2 separate regions of the Homo sapiens genome follow, and region 2 is linked to region 1. Evidence: fine-mapped expression QTL. A gene starts in region 1. The other region holds a variant in brackets. All regions are shown on one strand. Distances are between the middles of the regions. Region 1 holds the start of LTBP2 (latent transforming growth factor beta binding protein 2). Region 2 overlaps LTBP2 (latent transforming growth factor beta binding protein 2).

The links. PIP is the estimated chance that this variant, and not a neighbour inherited with it, causes the effect.
Region 2: its variant is the best candidate, but not a certain one, in a credible set for the expression of LTBP2 in whole blood (TOPMed, PIP 0.71).

What each region holds. Positions count from the first base shown.
Region 1 is chr14:74,610,728-74,613,631 of GRCh38, forward strand. LTBP2 (latent transforming growth factor beta binding protein 2) reads right to left here and starts at 1,510. Exons shown (of 36, transcript NM_000428.3): 1 at 724-1,510. The coding sequence starts at 1,217. LOC101928352 (a long non-coding RNA gene) reads left to right here and starts at 2,458. Exons shown (of 2, transcript XR_944029.4): 1 at 2,458-2,568; 2 at 2,840-2,904. RefSeq lists an enhancer at 1,566-2,193 and a silencer at 1,821-2,140.
Region 2 is chr14:74,496,921-74,499,824 of GRCh38, forward strand. LTBP2 (latent transforming growth factor beta binding protein 2) reads right to left here. Exons shown (of 36, transcript NM_000428.3): 36 at 1,263-2,904. It overlaps ISCA2 (iron-sulfur cluster assembly 2), which reads left to right. Exons shown (of 4, transcript NM_194279.4): 4 at 1-186. Among named protein-coding and RNA genes, the nearest start is that of ISCA2, 4.6 kb to the left of the region's middle. The variant T/C (reference allele first, on the strand shown) is at 1,280.

The DNA of each region.
Region 1 (2,904 bases):
AAAGTAAATTGCAGGGTTGTGCGGTGGCTTAGCCCTGCAACGCGCCCAAGTCACGCTTACACCTAGATGCACAAGAGCACACTGATCCAATTCTCCACGCGCCCACTGTGTCGCAGCCTCATCAGGACACGCTTCCCGCCCAAAGTACCCAGAGCTCACGCCCACGCCCGCATCCAGCCCTCAGCGTGCGCAGGCCGACCCACGCCCCACGACACTTGTCCCGACGCACCAGCTTCGCTGCCGGCTCCCCTCCTGGAGACGCATCTACCTTCTCTCCATGGGGCCCCCGACACCTCCGCCAACCCGCGCTCTGAGCCAGCTCAACCTCCCCTGGGCGTCAAGAGCCTGGAGCGCCCACCCTCCTGCCCTCTCCCCGCTGCCTCTCAGATCCCGGCAGCGCTGCAAGAGTCTACAAGAGCTCGTTAGTTGCAGGCAGGAGGAACGCGGGCGAGTGGAGAGGCGCCTTGCGAAAGGATTTAACGTCGGGGCTCCGGGAGAGTTGGTAAGAAAGGATGAGGATGATGATCTATCTGCCTTCAACTCTTCGAAAGCGGATCAAATCTTCCAATCCCGATTTTGGAACCTCGGGGCTGTTTCCCGAAGTACTAAAGACAGAGGGACGAGGGTATGAGAGCGGCGCCCTCTCCTCTCGCCTGCACGCCCCTCCACAAATGAGCCCTGGCTCCCCTCTGTACCCTCCAAACTTCCCTCTCCCATGCTCACCCCGTGAGCCGCCCTCGCGGCGGGGTTGGGGGCGCAGCCCCAGACCGCTGTGGGGTCCCCAGGCGTGGGAGAGCCGGCGCGGCCCGGGTCCGGGGTGCTGGTTGCTGCTGGCCCAGGGGAGTGCTTCTCCGGGTCTGCGCAGGTGGCTGGACACGCCGCGACTGCTGCGCGCGGGACGGCCTCCTGGCCTCCGCCTCGGTGGGCCTCCTGGGGCTCCCCCAGCCCGGCTGGGCCCGCTCCACGGGCTGCAAGCCCGCGACAGGCGCGTCCTGCTCCCGGAACAGACTGTACACCTTGGCTGCAGCCGCTGCCGGGTAGCTGCCCCCAGGGCGCCGCAGTCGATTCGCGTCTCCACCAGCCGGCTCGTATCTCCCTACGGGGTCCCTTTGGGCATGACCCGCGCCCACGAAGAGAGCCAGGGTGAGCGGCAGGAAGCCTCTCCAGGGGTTCCGCAGGGCGCGCCCCGGGCTGCGGGCTTTGGTCCGCGGCCTCATGGCGCGGGGCGGCTGGAGAGTGGTGCGCGCGGGCACCGCGAAGAGCTTTGTGGTCGGCACGCTGGACGCCCGCGGGCTGTTCTCCCGGCCCCGCCCGGCGGCCAGCTTCTCTGAGTCTAGGGGGCCCTGAAGCGGCCGACTGGGGGCCCGGCTCTCGGCGGAACGAGGGCTGCGCGCCCCGAGCCTCGAGTCCGCGCTCCTACTCCAGCTGGGCTCGCACGGCTGCTGCACCTTCGCGCCTCCTCCCTGTGCCTGCAGCCGTCTGAAGGGGACCCGGACGGTTTTATTTTTGGAAACCTCCCCCGGCTTTTTCGTCTCTTTTATCCACACCAGGCCCCCTCCTCGGAGGGACAGCTCAGCCCCCTCATTACCGGAGAGGGAGCGAGGAATTCCAGCAACACCCACTTTGGCACCGGGAAGCCAGCGGGCGGCGAGCGGGCGGCGAGGGGGATTAACCCGTGCGGAGCAGGGGGCGGCGCGGGGCTGACCCAGGCGCTGGTCGGGCAGATGGCGCCTGCCACGACCGGGACACTGGGCCGCCTTTCTCCTGCTCTGGGCAAGTTCGAACTGCAGACCTGCCCCGAATCGTTCTCCCGCCCCTCGCCTCAGGGACCGTCTTTGGATCGGGGGACCCAGGCTGCAGCCTTGCAGGTCTGAAGGAAGCCGGGAGGGGCGCCGAGGCCCGCGTAGGGGAACAGGGCCGCCGCCCCCTCCGCTTGCGCCCTGGCCGCTGGGGGCGCCCTCCGCAGGGCCGGCCGGAGCGGGGGTGGCGCGGGGCGGGGCGCGGCGCGCGGAGCGCAGGGAGGTCCCGGGCGCGCCCCCTGGCGGAGCTGGCGGCCCTGGCGCTCCGTGGCTGCAATGCCCTGGCGCCGCCGCCTTCGCTCTGGATCTCAATCCCCTTCCACTGGCGTGAGGGTCACGCCTGAGCCTGGCGCGGTGATGGCTGCCGGTAGAAGAGGGGTCCTCTTTTTCTTTTTCTTTTTCTTTTCTTTCTTTCTTTCTTTCTTTTTTTTGAGACGGAGTTTCGCTCTTGTTGCCCAGGCTGGAGTGCAATGGTGCGATCTCAGCTCCCCGCAACCTCCGCCTCCCGGGTTCAAGCGATTCCCCTGCCTCAGCCTCCCTAGTAGCTGGGATTACAGGCATGCGCCACCAAGTCTGACTAATTTTGTATATTATTTTATTTTTTAGTACAGACGGGGTTTCTCCATGTTGGTCAGGCTGGTCTCGAACTCCCAACCTCAGGTGATCCGCCCGCCTCGGCCTCCCAAAGTGCTGGGATTAAAGGCGTGAGCCACCACGCCCGGCCAAGGGGTCCTCTTTTTCACCGAGGCAAAGACACGGAGCCTCTTGAGTAAGTCACTCAAGGAGATAGCGCATGTGAAAGAGGGGAGTGGAATCTAGGCCTCCCGCCTCTGGCTGAATCCATTCCCGGGATCCCACCCAGCCCTTCACTCTCTCGGGAATTTCCCAGAGGGGGATTCGGTGACCCCGATTGACCCAGTGTGTGCATTCACATCTTGTGTTAGCAGGGAGGCGGGCAGGGGTGTGGGAATGCTGACTGCCGCTGTCTGCGTGTCCCCAGTAATCAGCACACCATTCTCACCCATGCTCCCTCCCTACAGCCTAAAGGCTTGGATCAACAGGGCTGCCCCTGGCACATTTGTACAGCCTATTTCCCAGAGAGGCA
Region 2 (2,904 bases), 110 kb before region 1:
GCCTGGGCAACATGGTGAAACCCCATCTCTACTAAAAATACAAAAATTAACTGCGTGGTGGACACCTGTAATCCCAGCTACTCGGGAGACTGAGGCAAGAGAATCACTTGAACCCAGGAGGTGGAGATTGCAGTGAGCCAAGATTGCACCACTGGACTCCAGCCTGGGTGGCAGAGTGAGACTCTGTCTCAAAAAAAAAAAAAAAAAAAAAAAAGGCGGATTTGGGAAAATCATGTTACTTCACACTGAGAAAGCTTCATTGGGAAACCAGAAGTGGCAGCAGGAAGTCTCCATTGGTGGAGACTTTATGTTGTTTTTCAAAGAGAAGGTCTCTTGGTCAATGCCCAGATCTTATTGTGGTACCATACTTGAGTTATGTGATGAGAGTGACCAAGGGTATGTAAATTATGTGTCCCATCCACTCTTAGTTTCTTTCTTTTTATTTGAGGCAGGGTCTCAATCTGTCTCCTAGGCTGGAGTGCAGAGGTGCAGCCTCTACCTCCCAGGCTCAAACAATCTTCCCACCTCAGCCCCTGCAAGTAGCTAGGACTACAGGTGCACACCACCAAGCCCAGCTACTTTTTGTATTTTTTGTAGAGATGGGGTTTCACCATGTTGCACAGGAGTCTCGAACTCCTGGGCTCAAGCAATCCTCCTGCCTCAGCCTCCCAAAGTGCCGGTATTACAGGCACGAGCCACCATGCCTGGCCCACCCATAGTTTCTTCGTATGGGAATGTTGAGTGATTACAAGGGATAGGAGGAAAGAAGTTGAGAAGTAAAAGATTAGGAAGGACTACTAAAGTAGGTGTTCAGGAAGAGACTCTTCTTTCTGTAACTTCTGAGAATCGAGCTCTGTTGTTTTGTCGTTTGTTATAAAGCATTAGAGTGCAGGGGTGGCATTTGGCAGGATCAACCTGGTATAGGGAAGTGGGCAGCACTGATCGTGGTGGTACAGCTCTCCCTTGAAATCTGGACCCAAGCTAATGTTGTGCAGCTGGCTTTGGGCAGGGCCTAACACTGTTCACTGCATGTTTTGTCTGAAAGGAAGGAATCTCTTCTATTTTTCTTCCTATCTAGCATTGATGTTTATGATCGTTCTTTTAAAATCCGTATTTTCCACTCTTCATAAAAATGCCACAGGGCTGCCTGACAAATTTGCATTAAGGAATTTTGACATAATTAGCACCTGGCTTTAGTTGTAAATTATAGTCAGATAAATATATAAAGAGAAGGAGCATTTAAGCAATCTTTGGCCAGCAACTGTATTTAAAAATATTT[T/C]ATTTTTTTTGAATAGGTGATACATATGGTACAAAATTCAAAAAAATACAAAAGGAGATACAGTGAAAAGTCTCCCAATCCTGTACCTATCCACCCTGTCACCCTCCCCACAAACCACCATTGGTTCTAAGAATTTATCCTGCAGATGTAATCCCATAAATTAATGTGAAATATGCACAAGAATATTCATTACAGCATTATTTATAGCAAAAGACAGGAAACAATGGAAACGTCTGTCAGTGAGGGACTGATTAAATAAATTATGGTTTATCCATTCAATGGAATAGTATACAGCTGTAAAATGAAATGAGGCAGCTCTAATTGCAAGTATAAAAAAAAAGCAAAGTGCAGAACAGCATGCATAGTATGCTATTTGTATTTTAAACAAAGGAAATATGTATATATGCATACAATATCTCAAGGTTGGCAGGAAGGTGGAGATTGGAGTGTTGTGGGGGCAGTGGGAACAGCAGTTACGAAGGTGTAGTGCCAGCAGGATATATTTGGGGGATGGTAAGTTCTCCGATGGTGAGGTATAAGGCGGAGTGGCAAGGATGAGGTGAACAGACAACCGCTTCTCTTTCCCCATTCTTTAGACAAATAGTGTTATGTTACATGCTGTTATGCAACCCTCCCTTTTCCCCTTAATTTGTTTTGGATATCTTTCTTAAGGAATTTAGAGCCACCTTTTTTAAGGGTTCCATAGCAATTAATTGTTTCTAATCTTTAGCTATTACAAATGATGCAGTAATAACTTCTTACGTATGTCATTTTATATCTGGTGAAAATATATCTGAAGGTTAAGTTCCTAGAAGTGGAAACTACTGGATCAAAGAGTTAGTGCTTTTATAATTTTGAAGGACATTGCCATATTGTCCTCTTCAATATGTACTTCTGTCAGCTGTTATGAGAGTACCTATTTCCCACATGCTTGCCAGCTAGGAGTCTTAACAAGCTTTTTGATCTTTGCCAATCTGACAGTTTTAAAAAGGATCTCAGTATGGTTTTAAGTTGCATTTCTTTTATTATGAGTGAAAGAATATTTTTACATGCGTAAGAGTGACTTATTTTTGTCTGCTGAAAACATCTCAATTAGTATAGGGACCTAGAGCAAATTATTTAAGCTTTCTATGTCTCAGTTTCCTCACCTGTAAATTGAGAATAAACAATAGTAAGTAGGATTATTGGATAATTAAATGAAATGTATGTATGGCACTCAGCACAGTGCCTGGCACATGGCAAGCATTCAATAAGTTATGTGATGGCTAACAATCAGAGGAGCAGGTAGGACAGGGCAGATTAAATTAAGAAAGTAGCATTCACTTCCATGCTCCAGTCACATGGAGCCTTGTTCATTTACATTGCCATTCATCAGAGAAGTACGAAGTCAGAGCTTTCCTTGTCTTTTAATAGTAAAGAGTCATTTCCCATTGGAACCCATCATAGGCTATCAGCAGAGCTGGCCAGGGAGTAGGCACAGCCTCATCTCTAATATTTAGACTTAGCCAACATGGTAAAGAAATTTAATCTGATATGAAATAAAAACAACAGAAGAGACCAGATGCACATTTCTTTATTCCACCATGGTTCTGAACTCCCAGCTAGTTTGGGTTGGAGTGAGTCTC